Homo sapiens: one gene and its partners. The protein of the gene in region 2 interacts with the protein of the main gene of each other region in a biochemical or structural test. Each region holds a gene or a part of one and is shown on either strand. Other genes may lie near its edges. The genes, in order: VAPA, KCNB1 and PTPRE.

Evidence for each region.
Region 1: the proteins of KCNB1 (region 2) and VAPA interact in a test that uses a peptide from one of them, tested with the Homo sapiens proteins (one study listed by BioGRID).
Region 3: the proteins of KCNB1 (region 2) and PTPRE form a complex in vitro, tested with the Homo sapiens proteins (one study listed by BioGRID).

The regions. Positions count from the first base shown.
Region 1 is NC_000018.10:9,916,936-9,924,044, reverse strand, and holds part of VAPA (vesicle-associated membrane protein-associated protein A), read right to left. Parts: intron 1-7,109. UniProt on the Homo sapiens protein: Endoplasmic reticulum (ER)-anchored protein that mediates the formation of contact sites between the ER and endosomes via interaction with FFAT motif-containing proteins such as STARD3 or WDR44.
Region 2 is NC_000020.11:49,479,668-49,487,028, forward strand, and holds the start of KCNB1 (potassium voltage-gated channel subfamily B member 1), read right to left. Parts: upstream 3,002-7,361; 5' UTR 2,814-3,001; coding exon 2,247-2,813; intron 1-2,246. UniProt on the Homo sapiens protein: Voltage-gated potassium channel that mediates transmembrane potassium transport in excitable membranes, primarily in the brain, but also in the pancreas and cardiovascular system.
Region 3 is NC_000010.11:127,910,055-127,917,163, reverse strand, and holds part of PTPRE (receptor-type tyrosine-protein phosphatase epsilon isoform 1 precursor), read right to left. Parts: intron 1-7,109. UniProt on the Homo sapiens protein: Isoform 1 plays a critical role in signaling transduction pathways and phosphoprotein network topology in red blood cells. May play a role in osteoclast formation and function.

The DNA of each region.
Region 1 (7,109 bases), on a different chromosome or scaffold from region 2:
GTTATTTTGTGAGATTGAGTAATTTTTATTGGCTTTATAATATCTCCCATCCAAGTACTAACCAGACCCTGCTAGCTTCCGAGATCAGACGAGATGGGGCGCGTTCAGGGTGGTATGGCCATAGACAGCTTTATAATATCTATACTTTTTCCATTTTCTAATTTAGCACTGATTTTATATAACAAGGGACTTTTAAACATGTACCCATAGTAGCTTAATTTGCTTATAAATCCTCTTACTTGTAAAATCCTGGAAGAAAAAACTGAAAAAATTCAGAACCACAGATTTTTTGGGGATCTGTTGTTAGTGAGGTTTTTCTCAGTGGGAACAGTACTCAGAAAACAAGACCAAGAGATTCTGGCCCTACAGGCTTTAAAAAGTAAAATTTTTTCACAGGAAAAACTAAACAGGAAACACTGTATGATTTAAAGGCACCCTATGTCTTTAAAGTATGACAGTCACTCCATGTCATATTATTCAAGAATTAAAATTATATACATATTCATATACACTTCACACATATACACACATACATGAAACATACAGCTACAAAAGAGCTGTCAAAACATAGGCCCATGAGAAATTTGTCAAGTTATACTATAAACATACGTTTAAAAGTCCTCTCATAGCAACAATTCTTTTTTAATTAACATCCCTACTTTTTAACGGTAATTCAATCTAATCATTTCCTTAAAATGCTAAAAGTTTAAAAGTCCTCTCATAGCAACAATTCTTTTTTAATTAACATCCCTACTTTTTAACGGTAATTCAATCTAATCATTTCCTTAAAAAGCTAAAAGATACGTAACTAAACTTCTCACTCCTTTAAATCTGAATTTTCAGAACAGTATCAAACATTAGTGATAACTAGTTATAAAGAACATCCAAACACCAGAGAAAAGCAGCTAAGCATGCTATGGTATATTAATGATGCATAAGTCAGCAAAAATGATACGGAGGTTTCTTTTATAAGCATTGAAGACACTAGTTTAGACTTTTTATAAAGTGAAATATGTGTTACAGAATAACAATTACAAAGTGAAATATGTATAACAGATTACAGAATTTATTTTTTATAAAGTGAAATGTTAAAGAATAATGTGTTACAAATATGGCTTCAGAAAATATCAAATTCAATCTCATTTAAGCAAAGAATATTTTATTATTAAAAAAACCCATACTGAAGAGTTCATCATAAAGATGTAAGCAATTCAATGGCACAGGAAATGAAGTATAACTGGCATCACAGGAAGAGGCTGTATTCAAGAGAAACTAATTCCTGGGATCAAAAGACCTCTCTGCCTACGTTTCTCTGCCTTTTTTCTCTCAATTAGTTGCTTCTGCTTGCCACTGGTCCAAATTAGCCACTGTTTTGTCTCCCAGTCCATATGACCTTGAAGGTCTGAAACCTATAACCATCTATTTATAGTTGTGTTTCAAGGTGAGCCATCAAAATTTTGACTGGTCAGTCACCAGCATATATATTGGCTGGCCTTGAATCTAGATTATAAACAGCCTCTTCCTGTGAGACCAGGTATACCTGATTTCCTATGCCATTGAGATTGCTCATTAATAAACTCTTAAGTGTGATTTTGTTCTTTGTAATAGACTAAATATTAGAGGATATCAAAGAATTACTGTTAATGTTATTACGTGTTAACAGTATCATGATTATGCAAAGAAAATGTCCTTTTTTGGTTATAAATGCAAACTCAAGTATCTAGGGATGAAATGTTATGCTATCATTCAGGATTTGTTTTAAAAATACTGAGGCAGGCCAGGTATGGTAGCTCATGCCTGTAATTCCAGCACTTTGGGAGGCTGAGGCAGGAGGATCGCTTGAGGCCAGGAGTTCAAGATCTGGCTGGGCAAAATAGCAAGACTGTCTCTACAAAAAATAAAACATATAATAATTAGCTGGGCACAGTGGCATGCACCTGTAGTCCTAGTTACTCAGAAGGATCGCTTGGGCCCTGGAGTTCAAGGCTGCAGTGAGCTATAACAGCACCACTGCACTTCAGTCTGGTGTCAGAGTGAGACCGCTGCAAAAAAATACAAACATGGAGGCAAACAAAAATATATAAATAAACACGTATGATTATAGTAAAATGTCAATTATTAAATTTATATTTAAATTTAATTTACTAAATTAACGCATACTGAGGTTCATATTATAAGGTGCTCATGTTTGAAAGTTTTCAAACGTTTAAAACTTACTAATTTAAAACTAATTTGAGTCACATTTCAGTTATAAAATGAATTAAACCAGTAAACAAGCATTTGCAAGTTAACAGTCCTCTCGCACATTTAATTTTTTTCCAAAACTAACTTTATGATCAAAAGAGAGCAAGATCCATCCTGTATCAACTTCCACCTCTGAAAGGCAAATAAGATTTCACTAAATGGTCAGTAAAGGTAAGATAAAAAGAAACTATGTTGAGATGATGCATATGTCAATTTGCTTCACTATAGTAACCATTTTACTATCTATATGTATCCCATAACATCATGTTATATGTATACCTCAAATATACACAATGAAATCTTTTTAAAGGATTAAAAGTATAGTTTTCCCTATTCTTTATATGCATTTTTCTGCTTCACAGAAAAATAGCATTTTCTTTTTGTACTCAATTGTCATATATTCACACAAACTTTTAAAGACAGAACACCCAAGAAATCACCTAGTCCTAACCTCTTACTTTACAAATGAAAAAAACACAAACATCAAACAACCTACCTTTAGGGTTAGTCAGCTCTTTACAAAATAGCCTACCACCCCTTTTCTGGAAGTACAAAATTTTGAAAGCACTATTACCTGCAAAAGCAGGTGAAAACTCCAACTGAGTCAAGATCCAAGACCAAAAAATAAAAATTACTGGAGAAATCATCTGAGTCTTATTAATTCAATCAACACTTACTGGGCAATCATTTTATGATGCCAGAACTTGTTACTACAAACATTAACAGGTATATACTCAGAGTTCATAGTATAGTTTGGGAGGGGAGAATATGTAAGCCTAACTACTATCTAATGTGAAAGTACTGTTATTACAGGTAAGCACAAGCTTCAACAGTGGCATGAAGGCTCTGACCAACTTGGACTGGTAGAGTATCAACGACTTCTCAAGAGGAAGTGATTCTTGAAATAAGAGGCTGCCTGACAGACGTGAGGGAGGACAATATTCTAAGCAGAGCCTGTGCAAAGCATTGCAGTGGCCTGGAGTGTTTGGGAAAATGGTTTCATATAGCCAAAGTTATGGACAGAAGAAAAAGAATAGACACTGAGGCTGGAGAGTTAGGCAGTGGATTTTGGATTTTTCAAGTACATAGTAAGAAAACATTTAGAGTTCTTCAATCAAGGGACTAACAGTAACAGCCTCCTTTTTCCAAAGCGTAGTTCCAGCAGCAGTGTGGAGGACAGGGTAAAGAGCTGACAATAAAGGAGGCTGGGCACAGTGGCTCACGCCTGTCATCCCAACACTTTGGGAGGCAGAGGCAGGTGGATCACTTGAGGTCAGGGAGACCAGCCTGGCCCACAGGGCAAAACCCCGTCTCTACTAAAAATACAAAAATTAGCCAGGCATGGTGGTGCACGCCTGTAATCCCAGCTACTTGGGAGGCTGAGGCAGGAGCATCGCTTGAACTCGGGAGGCAGAGGTTGCAGTGAGCCGAGATAGCGCCACTGCACACCACCATGGGTGACAAAGCGAGACTCCATCTCAAGAAAAAAATGAAAGAAAGAAAGAAAAGAAAAGGAGATGTCTGCTGACTAGTAAATATAAAAGGACCTGAAGTAAGGAAATTATCCAAAGCCCAGACCTTTTCTTAAGTAACACACCCATTTAACCAAATCCACCTTCATGTTAATATCCTGAAAGACCTAAACATATCTACCATACGTCCTCCTCCTCCATCTCTCTCACACACCCCCAAATAAGATGCATTTCGTCCTCATCCAGACATCCACCGTTTCTCAAATAGCACCACCATTTCCCCAGTTATATAAGCAGAAATCTCAGACATTCATACCCTTTTCTCTCAGTGCACATAGAGACCACCAAGTCTCACAGATTCAACCTAACTTTTCATCACCTCCAATACCATGACCTCAGTCCAAGGGGTCACCACTTGCCAGTACTGCTGCAGCCGCCTAATTCATCTCTTTCTCCCCTCTAGTATAATTTTACATTGCTACCAGAATTATTTTTAAATGCAAATGTGATGTTATTCGATTCCCTCCATCTTTACTGCTCCTCCCCTCACTTAAAAACCCTAGTGGCTCAGGATAAAAACAAAACTCCTAACTTGACCTACTAAACCAGCACTACATTCATCTTGACTATTTTCACCACTGCCACGCCGACCTCTTTCAGTATGGTAAATGTTTCACAGTCCCTCCTGCTACCGGATATTTGAACATGCATTTTCCTTTCTTCTTCACCAGGATAACTTTTACTCATTGTTGGAATCTTAGTTCAACTGTGACAGCCTGATCGAAGACCCTTATTTTACATTCTCGTAGCACTATATAGCTCTTCAGGGGTACACTTTATTCTTCTGATTATTTTATTAGTATCTATCTCTCTTGTTAGAACTGCCCCATGAAAACATGGCTTGTGTTTCACTCACAACTGTAGTTCCAATATTTATTCATCATACCTGACATGTAGCAGATACTCAAATCTAATCAAATTAGATCCATAATTGAATGAATTTTAAAAATAAATGAATTTGGAAGTAGAAACACATTGAAGTGGACAAAGGGATTATGTCAAAAATAGAAACACAGATTTTAATTATTAGATATGCATATTGTTTCTGGTGTGAGTAATCATGATGCCACTAAAAAATAAAAATAAAGCCAAGTGCAATGGCTCAGGCCTGTAATCCCAGCACTTTAGGAGGCCAAGGCAGGAGGATCACGCAAGGTCAGGAGTTCGAGATCAGCCTGGGCAACACAGCGGCACCCCCATATGTACGTAAAAAATTAGCTGGGCATGGTAGCATGCACCTATAGTCCTAGCTATTCAGGAGGATCACTTGAGCCCAGGAGGTCACGGCTGCAGTGAGCCAAGAACGTGCATGCCACTGCACTCCAGGTTGAGCAACTGAGCAAGACCCCATCTCAAAAATAAAAATAAAAAATATGGGAAGAAGAGTAGGCATGGGTAGTAAAAATTTTGAGATATTTTGAGTTTAGAATATCATATCTGTGCAATATTCAAATCTAAATAGTGAATAAGTTGTTTGAGTATGTGCTCTTGACTGACGGTAAAATGTGAATTAAAACAGACTTGGGGGTGTAGCAATACCTGCAGAGAGCAAGGAAGATAAAGAGAAAACCTCAAAACAATGAAATGAACAAAGAAAGTTCACAGAGTGAGATAAATGAAACCAAATCAGAATCTCAGAAACATGAGCATTTGAGGAAAATGCCACAAATAAGACAATAAATGGAGCAAATAAGAAAATTAGAAGACAATGCTGTTATAGAAGCCAGAAGAATTGAGGGTTTTTTTTAGAGAAACTGTCGGTACTGTCAAGAGCCAGGGGGAGGTCAAGTAAGATAAAAACTGGAAATGATTAAGTTAGCAATAAGTAGTGAGAGGATAAAAGTACCGTGGACTAAGGAGAGAATAAAAGGTGAGTAACTGGAAAAACAGTGAATATGGACTATTTTTCCAAAAAGTCTGAATGCAAAGGAAATGAAGGACAGGGAGAGACACATACTAGAAAGAGTTATGGTCAAAGAAGTACATGTCTGCTCATTTGTTTTTAAAATCAAAGACTCTGGTGTATTTATATGTTAAAACAATGCAGCCAGTGATTGAAAACCAGCAGGAAAACATCTCATGGAACATGGTCTGAGTCATAAGGAATTTTACCTTAGCCAGCAAAAATAGAGGAACAAAGAACCTTGGGTATGAGCAGGGTTTTTCTTTCTCAGGGAAGAAAGTATGGATGTGTACAGACTAACAGGTGTTACAAGAGGAAGGCACATCATGGAAGAGATGGTATGTCTTACTGAAAAAAAAAAATCTGACTTTTATTCTGTGAGCAATTGAGAGTTACCTAAAAACTAAGGAATGGAGTAATATATGATTAAAGATTACATTCATGTCTTTAGAGCCCCAGGCGTTTTGTATAGCCACTGGGAAACATGAAGAGCCGACTGGAAACACCTAAAAATGTGCTAAATATCCATCCAGAGGAGTATTCTCTAATTTCCCCCCCGCCCCGTGCTGCTTCTATGCAGATGCACTAGCTGATGTTAACACCATACGTCCCTCGATCCCTCAGAGAGCTTAATTTTCTTTGTTGATTTATTGTTATCGGCCACTCTCAACATAAGGATTTTGGTTTATTTTCGTCTCTCTCTGATCATTAAGAATATATTTGAAATTTATTTTAGCATTTTATAAACTTTCTTCTTCAAACTTTTCTACAAAACTGCTAATAGGGGTCAGGTGCGGTGGCTCACGCCTGTAATCCCAGCACTTTGGGAGGCCAAGGCAGGCGGATCACCTGAGGTCAGAAGTTCGAGGCCAGCCTGGCAAAATCCCGTCTCTACAAAAAATTCAAAATTAGCTGGGCATGGTAGTGCATGCCTGTAGTTCCAGCTACTCTGGAGACTGAGGCAGGAGAATTGCTTGAACCCGGGAGGCAGAGACTGCAATGAGCCGAGATCGAGCCACTGCAACAGAGCAAGACTCCGTCTCAAAAAATAAAAAAATTTAAAAAAACTGCTAATAGGTAGAAAAATAAAATGTGTAATACATTATAAATGGAATTTTATCATGTAAAAAATTTTAAAGACAAAAAAAATCTTTCACATAAAATACCAAGTTTCAAATCTGAAATCTAGGTAAAATTACTTCCAAGGTTTAAACAGAATTTGAAGTAAAGCAGCGTCTACTTCTTTTTCTTTACTAACACAAGTGATCTACTTCAGAATTCATTACATCGTAAATGCACTTTTATATGTTAACGACTGTATAAAACAAACTTTTTTTTAAATACTGAGGTATACAGAAAAATGTACTGAAATAGTTGGTGTCTGCTTTTGCAAAATTGTGCAACATACTGTTAATTCATCTTCAAGATGC
Region 2 (7,361 bases):
TGGAGGATTTTAAGCAGATGAATAATGTGATCCAATTTACATTTTGAAAAGCTCACTTTGGCTGCTATGTGGGGAATGGATTGCAGGGGCAAAAGTGGAAGCCGGGAGACTGGGGAGGAGGCTGCGGCACTTGATCATTATAGAAAGAACACTCGGTTTGGATTTCTGGCTACTCCTGACTGCCTGTGGTGTGACCTTAGGCAAGTTACTTAACCTCTTTCAGCCTCACTGTTTGCGAAAGGTGGGATAATAACAGAGCTGCGTTGTTACACTCCATACACAGTAGGTGTTTGATCATTGGCAGCCAGGATTTCTATTCTGAGGGCCAGTGAGCCTGCCTCCCTCCCCATTTCAGCTCTGGCTACAGAAAATCCTAGATGGTCCATCTGCCAGGAATGTGAGCTGGCAGCCCCAGACTGGGATCATGGAGAGGTCACAAGGCTGTCCCTGCTAGCGGATTAACCCAAGGGAGAGGAGAGGTTCTTTATTCCCAAACAGCACCTCTTGCAAGCCCCGGTGCTTGGGTCTTGCTGCCAGACCAAAACATGGCCCTGTGCCTGCTTCTTCTCTGGGAGGGCAAATTGTCCAGTTCCCTGTACCTTGTTCTCATGTCTTAGGGATGGGACAGGGAGGGAGAGTCACATTTGGGCCTAAATGGGATGTGCAGTGGGAGAACCTGTGTCATGCCTGGAAATAGCAAAATAAGTCTGTTGATCCTAAGCTGATTAAGGGTGAGTGACTCTGTCTTAGGAGGAGGCTTTTTGGACACAAAATTGGGGGCGGGATTATGGAGAGAGACAGCCCACAGCCTCAGAGGAGGAAGCCAGGCCCAGGAGCCTCTACATCCTTGTTAGGGCCAACAGGGAAACGAAAAAAACACGTGGGGGCTCCCTCCACCCTCTTACCAGCCACCCCTTCTCCATCCACTCTCAGGGGCCTCTCCTTGGGTGGCTAGATCTGGAGGAAGGACCCCACGGAGTCTCCCTTCAGACTGGGACCTGCAGGTGGGCCTTCAGTGAGAACTGAGCCGGAGACCCCACAATGAAAGGCTGGGCTGGACAGGAGTCAGCCCTAGCTAGTAAGATATGGCTGGATATTTAGGCTTCCTCCTCTCCTCTTTCTTTTACCACAAATCTACTTACCTGACCCCTTTTTTTAGGCCCCACACTCAGTTACATTCTCCCCATGTTTCCCAAGTTGGTCTTGCTGGATTTCAACATCAACATCTCTCTTTTCTGGGTTCTCCGTGAACCTCACAGAACCTCTTTTATAGCCTTGCACACACTGTTTTGTCATTTGCTCCCAGCACCCAGCACTTCGGGCACATGAAGACAGGCCCCATCTTTCCCAGGCAACCCCAAATCCCAGCCTGACGTAGAGAAGTTGCTGATCAACCAGTGCCCTCCTGCCCTGCCTTGGCTCCCACCCCAAGCCTTCCTCAGTCCCCTACAGCCCCTGCCATTACCCAGCAGCACCAAAGACTCTCTGGCCCACTCTTTGTGTTCAAACTCATTCCTGCCTCCTCCTCCTCCTCCTCCTTTATTTTTCACATTGCCTCATTTTTCTCTCCTATTTTGAAATTTACATCTTGTTCCAAGAGCTGAAACATCTTTACAAGCTGCACCAAACCATTCTGGAAATAAACTCACCAAATAAATAAGTAACCAGGGGGTGACCCCTCACCCGCAAGCATCCACAACCAACTGCATGTGTCGTGTGGGTCCACACCCACCCCTCGGGGTCCCTTCTTACTTATGTTTAAACTATCTGACAGTATCTCAATGTCCTGTAAGCATGTCTGTAAGCTGCTTTTTTCCCTTGCTGGGGCAGAGTGAGGTTATAAATATGGAGATATTAAAATCACAGGGTGATCCAATCCAGCCTAGGTCTGGGACTTCACAGGGAAGCAAACCCTACTCCACCCCAGCAAGCCACTGTTGTCTCTCTGTGCTCTCTCTCTTATTCGTCAGTGTCCATCTTCTTGCTGTGGCTTTTTATGGGTCCCTGTGAAACCTCTCCAACCAAGTAGGGGTATAACGTCTTGGATAATAAAAAGATGGAGTGACCAGTGCCACATGGGAAAAGTCTGAGGGGGTTGGTCCTCACCTCTGGGGACTCAGTCCTAGCCCCTCCCCATTACTAATCTTCATCGTTGGGAACAAAGCCAGAGTCCTCCAGCAGTGGTCCTCAATATGGGGATGCAAGCAGATCCCCCCAGACCAGCAGCCCCCAGATCCCAGACTCACCTTGGCAGCCACAGAGGAATTGGGCTTCTCCAGTAGGTCCCAGAGTTTTTTCCTCTTCTCTGCGCAGCACGTGTTATCGAACTCCTCGCCTTCCCGCTCCCGTAGGGTCTCGGCCTCACGCTTGAGCTCCTCGTTCATCTGCTCTTTCTTCTGGTGGTAGCGGGCCTGGCAGCAGGACTCCAGGTAGATCTCGTCGATGCCCCAGTAGTCGAGCTCTTGGCTGAAGCTGAGCGCGCACATCTCCTCCATCATGTGCAGTCGCCCAGTGCGGTAGAAGTTGAGGATGGAGGTGAAGGCGCCCGGGTGGCGGTCAAAGAAGTACTCGTTGTCGTCGAGGCTGTAGTCATCGCACACCTCGAGCAGCGAGTCGTGCGTGTTGCAGTCGCGGAGCTTGCCCAGCCGCGTGCGGGGCAGGCGGTCCAGGGTACGCCAGAGTACCTCGTGCGCCAGCCCCCCGACGTTGAGGCGGACCCGCCGAGAGCACGCCTTGCTGCGCACGATCTCCATGGGCTCGGGCGGCAGCGAGCTGGTGGAGCGGGAGCCATGCTTCGTCATGCCCGCCGGCATCGCTGATCCGGCCGCCCCCGCCCCCCCTGCCCCCCCAGGCCGCTGTCACTCGACGGCAAGGCCCGCTGCTGCGGGGGAGGGGGGCAGGGAGCGCTGTGGGCTGCTGGGGGTGCAGGGGGCCCCGCGGGCGCGCGTCACGGCCGTCTTCTCACCTCCATCCCGACGGCTGCGAGGCAGAAAGCGAAAGCGGACGCGGGTCAGCAAACGGGGAGCTGGGCATGCTGTCCCCCCGCCCCCCACCTCTCCACCAGGCTCCCAGCCGGCCTTGACCTTCCCCCGCGCTTAAGCGGCTCAGTGGGGTAGGACGGATGGTCGCTGTCCCTCCCGCCGGTGCTGAAGTCCGCCGCACCCCATGGATGGAGGGAGGGGCCGCCCCTCGGGGCGGGGAGAGGGCCCCAAGAGATGCCCCTGGAGCCCGGGAGGCCCCACCCTGGGCTTCTGCGGCCCAGGCGCGACCCAGCCGCCCGGGGCGCTGTCCGCCCCTTAGAGTGCTGAAACTCTCTTCATTATGGGTCTCCCGATCGAGTCCCGAACCTGGCCCCGCCATGGGGAGAGAGGGGGAGCTGCATGAAAACTTTCTTTCTTTATCTTTTTCTTTCTTTCTTCTTCTTCTTTCCTTCTTTTTTTTTTTTTTAACGAGTTCTCTTCTTTTCCTTCCCCTTCTCGAGATAATCAAGATTTTGGGGGTGGGGGAATGGCAGCGGGCTTTTTTCCAAATCTTAAAAGATTTGGGGGAATTCCGGGGGTTCCAGGTGCCCACCTGTCCGAGGTCACAACAGACGGGGTGTGCACAACAGCCCCTCTGTCCTGGAGCGACCCCTCTTCCCAAACACTGGAGCATCTCCTGAGATTGCTCCAGCGACAAGGTGAGCCGCGAGGAGGAAAAGCCCGCTCTCGCCTCTCCCTCTGAGCCCCCAACCCTACCGCAGGAGGGGCGGGCAGAGTCCTCGGGATCCGCCTGCTCCGTCCTCCCCTCGCTCCTTCCCCGCCCCCTTCTCCTCCTTCTCCTCCCCCTCCTCTTCCTTCTCCCCCTCCTCCTCCTCTTCCTCCTCCTCCTCCTCCTCCTCCTACTCCTCCTCCTCGTTCCTCTCCCGCGATGGCTTTTTATAACTCCGGGTTCTGCGCCTTTCCCCGGGCTTGGAAGGGAAGGGGTGGGGGAGGTGGGAGGCGGGGAAATGAGCTAAATTTTCTGGCCTTTTCAAAAGGTGCCATCCTCCTACCGCGCACTAGTGATTTCGGGGGGTTCCCCTGAGCACCCCCTGCATGTAGGGCTCACGCCTTAGCCCCAGAATGGGGATTGCGCGTCCCCTCAGGCCTCAGCCCTTGCCTGCCTCCCACCCCGCTCCCCTCCAGCCTGGAGCTGCGGAGCCCGAGCAGACCAACAGGCCGAGCTGCGGCAGGCAAACCCCCTGTCCGTGTCCCCATGCACCCCCACGGAAGGCCGTACGCCCCAACACTCACCCCCAGGGCGGCCGCCTCCTGGGGCCAGGGACCGCGCATCGTCCCGGCCGCCCGGGCGCCCCCGCCCGTGGGCAGCGGCGGTCCCGGGGCCGGGCTGAGCCGGGCCTACCCCGGCCGGGCAGGCAACTCGCCCGGGCTGCAGGCGCCGCGGGGCCGGGGCGCGCTCTCCGAGGCGGGGGGCGCCGGCGGGCGCCGGGGGCGCGGGGGCAGGACCGCGGCCGCGCGGCACCTCCTCCACCTCCTCCTCCTCCTGCTCCCGCGGCGGCGGCGGCGGCGGCTGCCTGGGCGAGATCAACAAGTCGGGGCTGAGCTTCGGCTCCGCGCTCGCTGCTATTCTGTCCCGCACTTCGGAGCGCCCGGAGCCGGGCACCAAGGCAGGACGGCGCCACCTGCGGGTCGGAAGCGAGCGCGGCTTAACTCCTGCCTGCCCGGCCCAGCCTGCCGGGGAGGCCGGGGGCGGGCTCCGGGATCGGGCCAAGGAGACGCGCGTGGCCGTGCATCCCTCTCCACCCAGGCCACCTGCACAGCTGGCCTCGCGATCCCGCCTTCCTTCGTCCCGTCAACAACGTGTGTTGAACGCCTCCTGTGCGCGAGCCGCGGTGCAGGGCACGGTGACAGGCGTCTGAGATACAGCTGTGAATCAAACACAAACATCCGGCCCTCGTGGAGCTGGTTGGAAACAGATCATAAACAAAAAAGCGAAAGGATATATGAGGCGGTGACAAGCGCTGGGGGAAATAATGAAACAGGAGGAAGGGTCAGAGGGTGGGAGGGGGCAGATCGGAACTGTAAATAGCCCTTGCTTTCATGAGCTTCCATTCTAGATTTTAGCGGGGGGTCGGGGGTGGGGGACGGAGGCGGACAATGAATACATCAGTACATATGCAATGTGGCAGGTGGTGATAACCGCTAAGAAGAAAAATAAAGCGAGGTATGGGGAAGAGAGGGTGAAGAGTGAGCTGGTTTATATAGTCTGGTGATTCATTCATTCATTCATTCATTCATTTATTCATGTTAAGTTGGACATCTGGTTATTGACAGCTTCCTATGTGCAAGCAGAATGCCAGGCTCCGTGAAGGGAAAGTCTTCCCCCTGGAGCTCCCCATCCAGTGGGGGAGGCAAAACCCATCACATAATCCCAGAAATGAAAACTGGAGGAGGTACCTGGAGAGGCAGGCAAGGGTTCTCTAAGGATGCCACAGATGGGCCTTGTGTTTACTCATTTATTCTTTCAAATATTCATTTACTGCATGATAAGTAAATAGGTGTCAGCGGCCGGGCACAGTGGCTCATGCCTGTAATCTCAGCACTTTGGGAGACTGAGGCGGGAGGATGGCTTGAGCCCAGGAGTTGGAGACCAGCCTGGGCAACATAGTGAGACCCATCTCTGCCAAAAAATAAAAAATTAGCTGGGCATGGTGCTGCTTACCTGTGGTCTCAGCTACTCAGGAGGCTGAGGCAGGAGGATCACTTGAGCCCAGGAGGTCAAAGCCACTATAAGCTGTGATTGCACCTCTGCATTTCAGCCTGGATAACAAAGTGAGACCCTGTTGCAAAAAAAAAAAAAGAAAAAAAAAAGTGCCGGGGATGGGTACAGCAGTGAGCTCCCCTGCCCTGGAGGACAAAAACTGAACAAGATACAGTGTTCCAACACAGGTTCCTCTCTGGCCCTTTTCTTCCTTTCTAAAATTAAGGGGTTCATTTCCATAATTTCCATAGAGTTGCACATAATATTATTATATATTTTTTACTTGTCCACTTATCATCTCCACCATCATGACCCTTGTCCAAGGTACCATCGTCTTGTCTCCCTGCAACCTCCCTGCAACTTGGCTCCCATCTTGGCCTCATCCCTGGCTCCCATGCCTGGCTCCCATCTTGGCCTCCTACAGTTCATTCTCCCCATGGCCACCAAAACAACTGCTACATTTCATGGACCATGAAATGTTGGACCATGTTTCTCATCTGCTTAAAACCTTCCCAAGACTTTCCCTTGCTTTAGACTAAAACCTAAACTTCTGGCCTATTGCCCTAATTCAGCCCGCCCCCCTTTCTGAGCTTGTAGACCAGTGGAGGAAGACAGGTAACTAAAAAAGTAAATTTTTAAAGAGAGAGTTTCAGGCTACAGTGATTGTTATAAAGGAAATGGAACATCATGATGGGGTGGAAAAAGAGAGACCAAGCTGCTAGTGTTACACAGGGTGGTCAGGAAGGGTGTCTCAGAGGAGATTAATAGAGATTGAAAGATAAGAAGGGACTAGCCATGGGGAGAATGAGGGAAATGCATTCCAGGTGGAGGAAACAGCAAGTGCAAATGACCTGGGGTGTGAGAGACAGTGAACAATCACATTCCCTCCTGCTTCAGTCTGGTGTTCCTAGGGTCAGAAAGGGTTCTCAGCTGGCCCCTCTGTAAGCCTAATCTGTTGAAGGCAACTTTTCTCCAGAGATCTGGGCATTCCCACAGGAGGTTTCAGAAAGCAATAAATCCTTCCTGATGAGAGGGAAAAAATGACTCTATAATGGTGAAATTTCCAGGCATTACTGCAGGCATTACGGTGCCTTCCAGGTACAGCTAAAATAACACCTAGAAGTGCGGTTCTTCTCTACTCCATATAACCAAGGAGTGGAGATGCATGTTTGTTGGGCACCTACTACAAGTAGTCCTCTGAAGGTATAACATCCATCAGCTTCCACATCTGTAAATAAGAGATGAGGTTATTTATAGATGTGGAAGCTAAAGCTCCGAGAGAAGGTGTCTTGCCCAATATCTTGCTGGCAAGTGCTGGCACAACCAGATATGGGAATCTCTTGTTTGACTCCAAAATCAACGGGCTATCCAAATACCAGAGCAGCCTCTCTGCAAAGTCCTTTCTCCATCAGTTCATTTATTGATTAATGGAATCATTCCAGATGTTTACTGAGCATCTACTGTGTGCCTCAGCATGGGTGTTGGTGCTGGGAATTGAGGGTGAGTAATTTATATGGTCCCTGTCCTCGTGGAGCCACACACCTCTCTTGCCAAGGCCAGGAACAGACAGAAAACCTTGTTACTTGTTTTTCTTCTGTATTGTTTTTTTCATTTTTAAA
Region 3 (7,109 bases), on a different chromosome or scaffold from region 2:
CAGTCACCCTGGCCGAAAACTGCGGGGCCTTGGTTCTCACTCTCATCCTCTCACCCACATGGTCATGTTGCCTATAAATCCAACCTGCTGAGTCGGTTTCCCCCGTCACCTCCATTCTGGCTTTCCACACACAGCCAGCAGGGGACCCCTTCTCAAACTCACAGCTGAGCATGCTGCTGGGCTCTGTGGGGCTGGCCAGGCCGCACAAAGGGGACACACCTGGAACCTGTGAGCCTCAGGATGGGGGGAGGGGTGTTAGGAAAGACTTGCTGAAACTATACAAATGACTGTGTGCACACATGCGTTTTTCTGGAGAATGAGTCCATAGTCTTCCCTAGAATCACAAAGGGGGTCATAATTTAAGACACGGTAAGAACTGCTGGTCCGTCACACAGAATCCAGACTCCTGGATGGTGTACAAATGTTTGGGTGATCCTTAAACTTTCCACCTTTTTGTCCCATCCCCTCTGTCCCTGGGCTCCAGCTCCATGCAGACACCTGCTCTTCCCCAGACAGGACACACCGCTTCCTACTGCCAGGCAAGCACATGGTAGCCCCTCTGTCTGGAATGCTCAATCCCTGTCAGCTGCCTAGGAAATGGCCCAGTAAACCAAGCCTGCTTGTATTAGTCTGTTTTCATACTGCTATAAAGAACTGCCTAAGACTGGGTAATTTATAAAGGAAAGAGGTTTAATTGACTCACAGTTCAGCATGGCTGGGGAGGCCTCAGGAAACTGACAATCATGGTGGAAGGGGAAGCAAGGCACCTTCTTCACAAGGCGACAGGAAGGAGAAGTGCACAGTGAAGTGCACAGTGAAGTGAAGGGGGAAGAGCCCCTTATAAAACCATCAGATCTCATGAGAACTCACTCACTATCATGAGAACAGCATGGGGGAAACCACCCTCATGATCTAATCACCTCCTACAAGGTCCCTCCCCCAACATGTGGGGATTACTATTTGGATTACAATTCAAGATGAGATTTGGGTGGGGACACAGAGCCAGACCACGTCACTGCTCTACCTGGGGAGGCCCTTCCATGTCTCCCCTCCTCCACAGGAGCATCCAGCATCACATTTAACACTCCCTGGAAGTGAGTTCTGTCTTCCTGTGGACCTGGAGCATCCACAGGATGTCACAAGCCATCGTGCCTTTTTTTTTTTTTTTCCCTGTAACTCCAGCGCTAAGCACAGTGCTTGTACGTACGGATGCTCCTGGGCTTACAGTGAGGTCATATCCTGATGAACCCCTTGTAAATAGAATATATCATAAGTTTAAAATGTACCCAATGCCCAATAAACCCATTGTAAGGTTGAGAAACTATAATAAAACCATCATAAGTTATAGATCCTCTATATACTGTAGGTAGTCAATAAAGGTTTAATACTTCCATTTGTTCCTTCTAAATGATATTACAGACTCTTAAACACTATTTACATTTGATGAAAACCAAAAAATATCCTTTGAAAGAATGTTGTTGGCTAGCTAAGAATAGGCCTGGCTTGGCACAACACAGTACAAAATTATTAAATTTCTGGCTCTTGCATTTTTATATTACTTTGGGTCCAAATCTGGACTTTGCGCAAAAGAATTTAAATGGACAGACTGATAACATCTCCAGTAGATGACTGAACTTTAGCTGATGTTTGCAACCTTGGCAAAAAGTAATTTATTGAATTACTGAAGCACTGAACGAAGGGCTGCTATGAGCTTAGGAAAAGAGAGCGCTTAGTCAACAGCAGTTCAAAATTAAGGACGAGGTTACTGGTTCAGAGTACTTTTTTGACCAGTACTTAAATGTCCAACTGTTTATGAAACTAAGGTTGCTTTCAGAAAGAGGAAAACCATACTGGAAAAAAAGTGTTAATCACAATGAAAAATTTTACTAGTAACAATGTAAGTTTTGGGATGATTTGAAATAATGTGGCTGGAAACAGAAGTTTCTTTTTTTGATAAGTAGACTTCCTAGTGCAACTAGGATTGTACAGGAGTTTTATTTTTACATATTTAAGATGCTAAAATGTGTTATTCTCTTTGGAAGAGCATTTACATGCTTTCTATTCATTAAAGTAAGTACCGGAAGGCAACGTTTTGTTGGCCTGGATTGAGTTACTATAAATCCTCGAATTTAATAAAAATCCACAATATTCAGGCTTTTTATTAATTCATACTGATTTCCTCCCCAGGAATTTTAAGAGAGCTTCTGCTTCAGAGATTCAGAGTGTTTGGGTCTGAATATTAGCTCCACGCCCTGACATGAGGATATGCCACCCCTGTGCTCTCTGAAATTGTCCTGGGTCAATCCTTGGTCCTTATCTCGTGCCCAGCAAGCAGGGCTCACATTCCAGGTTGAAAGGGAACTTCCAGGTCTCCTCGGTTGACAAGATTGGAAGATAAAAGCTCACCATCTGAGAAGTGCTTTCTCTCCTACGTCTAGAACAGTGGGAAAGCGCCCTGAAGAGAGGAAGGATTTGGAAAGAAACACCGACATCTGTAGGAAATATTCTGTGCTGAAAACCAACCTGTTAGTTGAATTCACTAGCAGGTCTCTCTGGAATCAAGAAAACAAGCTGGAGAATTCCATAGGGAGGATTTACTTTGTCTTCCCCAGAGGAGGCTGGAGGCCTTCCCACCTCCAAAGATCCATCCCATGTTACCTCAGTAACAACCTAGCCTTTTTCTGAAAGTGTGTTTTATAACAAGTGGATGGGGTTAGAAGAGTTAAGAGTAGAGCCTATCCTGGGAAGTATGATAGTGTCAGAAAAACAGGCCACCGGTGTCCGCAAAGCCTGTATTTCCACCTGTGCTGTGTGTGTCAGTCTGTTCTTGCATTGCAATAAAGGAATACCTGACGCTGGGTAATTTATAAGGAAATGAGGTTTAATTGGCTGATGGTTCTGCAGGCTGTGCACAAAGCATAATGCTGGCACCTGCTTCAGGTGAGGCTCAGGAAGCTTCCAATCAAGGCAGAGGGAGGGAGCCAGCATGCCACACAGTGAGAGTGGGAACAAGAGAGAGAGTGGGTGGGGGGTGCCACATTCTTTAAAATGACCAGATATCATGTGAACTAGCTGAGCAAGAACTCACTCATCACTAAAGGGATGGCGCTAGTAATCATGAGGTACCTGCCCCCATGATCCAATACCTCCTACCAGGCCCTACCTCCAACGCTGGGGACCACATTTCAACATGAGATTTGGAGGGGACACACAGCCAAACCATATACTGTGTTTCCAACAACAGAATAAAAAGCTTTACCCCATGACAAGGATTTCAGACCAAAAGGCTGGTGGATGAGGTGGGGGCAGGGTAAAGAGGAGAGTCCCAGGGTCGGACATCAAATTGTGGAAGTAGGTGTCCACCTCTGAGGCCAGCCTCTTAATAAACTGGAGAAGAAAGGAAGGCTGGAGCTCCCTAGAGTTTCACCGGGAACCTGCCTGGACAGGAGCTTCCATTTCGTCTGGGCTGTGCTTGGTGGGTGCGTTCCCGACCCTCAGAGCGCCCTTGTGCATGTTAGCCGAGGAGTCAGGGCCAAGCCTGTGGACAGCAAACCAGTCTGCACCGCAGACCTATGAAAGTCCTACTGTGGAGACACAGCCTGAAAAATGCCAATGCCAAGTCCTTCTGGAGTGAGAGGACGCCAAAATAAAAGGACTTAGTACAGAGGTCATTTAAAATAATACACTGTAATCAAGTAGCTATGTGATAGGACATTTAAAAATCTCAGTTGAGAAGAAAGATGGAACTAATTTTCTCTCTAGTACAAAACTGGTGACTAATGTTCAGCTGGAAATGTCCAAACAGATTTAGGGACATTAATAACCAAAAATTATGTTTGTGCATTTATTGAATAGGAATTAAATGACTTGCCTTGAGGACAAAGCGACTGTGGCAGAGGAGAAGTCAGGGCTCACATCATCTCAGGCCTTTGATTCCGGTCCCCTGGGCCCTTGCCTTGTGTGAGACCGCTGGCCCTTTGGTGATCATGGGGCCAGGCCTCTGCGTACCACCTCCACCGATCCCCGTGCAGCTGCCTTGGCGGCATCATGCTCCCCACCGTAAAGACTTGGGCTCACACTGGGCCAGGGGAAGTCCCTTGCCTTGTCCAGAGCCTCAGTCTCATGGGCCCCCATCTGATCCCAGTCATTCTGCTCCTAAGTCCTTTCCCTGAGCCCCAGGCTGTGTCACCTCCCTTGAAAATAAAGCCCCGTGGCTTCCACTTGCTGCTGGTATTCAGACAGAGTAAAATCATGGCAGGGAAGGCCTCCGCCACTTGGCCTCCTCCACTGCTACCTGGACAGGCTCCTACTCAGTTCTATTACCTTCATCCATCCATCTCTCCATGTCACATACATGCACAGAGTGAGCTCTGAGCTCCAGGCATTGTGGGACTGGCTGTCCATCCCTGGGAGCTGACGACAGAGTCATGTACCTGCCCAGGGCGCTCACACCAAATGCTATTGTTCCCATGCTAGCCCTTCCATTGGATCAAATGTAGTGTAGCTGGCACCCAGACCTGGGATCCAAACAAGTTTTCCTATCAATTCTTTACTCTCCACCCAACAAACACTAACATCAAAGCACCTGCCCAAAACACGTTTGGTTTTTAGCACATAACTAAGAATCTTTTTTTTTTCTTCAAACATTTCCCTACTCCCTGCTGGACTTTATATTTGTTTTTGGGAGAAAGATTTCTCTGCCCCTTTTGTTACTTGTTACAATATACATAATGGACCGGATTAACTGAACATTCTTGATTGCATTTGAAAGATATTTTTAAAAACAGATGCCCTTTTAAAATATTTTATCTGGCCCCTATTTCATTGGGAATCAATATAAAAGGATATGTTTATTTTTCTGAAATATATTGTTAAGAATTTGTATTTCTTAAGCTCAATCAAAGCCTCTGAAGTATTCATACAGTTGAAAGAAAGATGTGGGGCCCACATTTCTGGCTGTGAGCAGGGTGTTGTTAACAGTTCAAAGGCTGGGCACCACATCAATACTCCCCACATGGAACACCTGGACAGGGCAGACCATGATGGGTATGACTGGGAAAACAGCAGCCAGAGCCCAGGGAAGAAAAGGAGGCTGCCTTCATAATCCCCAAACCAGGGGTCTCCTAGCCCACATCCAGCAGCGAACGACCCCGCAACTGCTCATCTGTGTCTGCTCAAGGATTGGTAACATTCGACCAACTCTTATTGCCTCAGGTATGGCTGATCTAAAATCCCAGCCATCTAAAATATCATCCAGCACTCTGCTTTTGGTGAAAAAAAAAAATCCTAGTGACAAAATAATGAGAAGTTAATCCTCCAAAATAAACTCTTGATATGTCTAGGGCCAGTACCTAAAATTGGCAGCACGCTACATGTACCCACGGGCCTCTCCTCACTCTCTCTAGATTTGGTGTCCAGAGCAGAGAGACACGTGGCCCAAATGCTGAGCCAAGAAACAGGAGGCCTCCCTGCCTGGGATCCAGCCTTGTACGGAGTCAGCAGCCCTTCCTGCCCAGTGGTGGGGAAGGGGTGAAATCGGGCGGAAGTGCAGCAGCTGTGAGGGGCCCAGAGATGGCCCAGGACAGCCCCTTTCTTTGGATAAGCAAAGTGAAGTTCTGAGAGTTTCTAGGGTAGGCCACAGCTTCCTAGCTTTATGTTCTGGTCTAGAAGCTGCTCTCTTACCCTGATTCCAGACACCTGATTCTAGGCCACACTGCTTCTCAGGGGTGGGTTTCGTTTGCTTTTGCAGTGCCTCACACCCAGCCTGGTTTAATTCAGGCCACGAGCCTGGTTAATGTGCACAGCAAGTTGCATTTCTGCCTCATCGATCACTGGAGTCAATGGTGCATATTGAAGAATGAATGCCTTCATGGTAAGTGATAACATTATGGGATTAAAATACTTAATCACGCAAAATTTACATAATAATCATTTAGATTGCCATGCAAAAATTATCTGGCATGCCACACCACACTGATTTGACCTACTGATCTGGATGATGCACAAAAGGTATCTATCTATTTGTATGGTTTTTGGCTTGGTTCATGTATTCATTCAAACTTCATTGATTCTTTTTTTTTCCATGACAGGGTCTTTCTCTGTCAACCAGGCTGGAGTGCAGTTGTGTGAACATGGCTCACTGCAGCCCTGACCTCCCAGGCTCAGATGTTTCTCTCACCTCAGCCTCCTGAGTAGCTGGGACTACAGGTGTGCACCACCATGCCCATCTAATTTTTTTGTGTTTTTGGTACAGAGTTCCATCATGTTGCCTATGCCGGTCTGGAATTCCTGGCCTCAAGTGATCTGCGTGCTTCAGCCTCCCAAAGTGCTGGGATTACAGGTGTGAACCATTGCACCCGGCCTCAAACTTCACTGATTCTTACATGTGCAATGCACAGCATTAGATGTTGTAGGGGAAAGATAACCACAGTTTACTGCATACCAGCCAAGCGGCCTGTCAATTATATGTATCCTATGTCCCCCTCACAGCAGCAGCCCTGGGAAGTAGCGATGATTACTCCCATTCTAGAGAACACTGAAGCCTGCATTTTGAGTCATTTAGCCAAGGTCACACCAGAGTCAGAACTTGACTGACTGAACCCAAAGTACATGCTCTCAGAGACACACCCTCCACCCTTAAAGCACTGGCTGCCTAGTGGAGGAGATAAACTACTTGAGCAAGTGAACTGGAAATCAAAGTCAAGTCCAGTAAGTGCTTTAGGACAGGCAGAAATAACGTTCTATGGAACCAAGAGTAAGAGAGATTCCTCTCAGGTAGGGGAGCCAGGAAGGCTTTGTGGAGACTGAGACTTTTGAGGTGGGCCTTGAGGTATGGGTAGGAGTTTCTAAGATGGAAATAAAGGGGAAGGAGGCTGAGAGCAGGGAGCTGAGTCTTGGGATCTGGAAAGCTTTGGGAGCTTTATGGAAGACAAAGCCATTGGGTCAGTAGGAAGAAAGCCAAAAGAAAAACTAGAGATGTTCTTAGAACTGTAGTTTTCTTCCCAAGTGATATTCAAATATTAAGAAGGCCAGTCTTTACCCTAATGGATACATTCATTCCTGCTTTGGCAACAGAACTTCTGTGAGGGTGACTCAAATGTTATAAATGA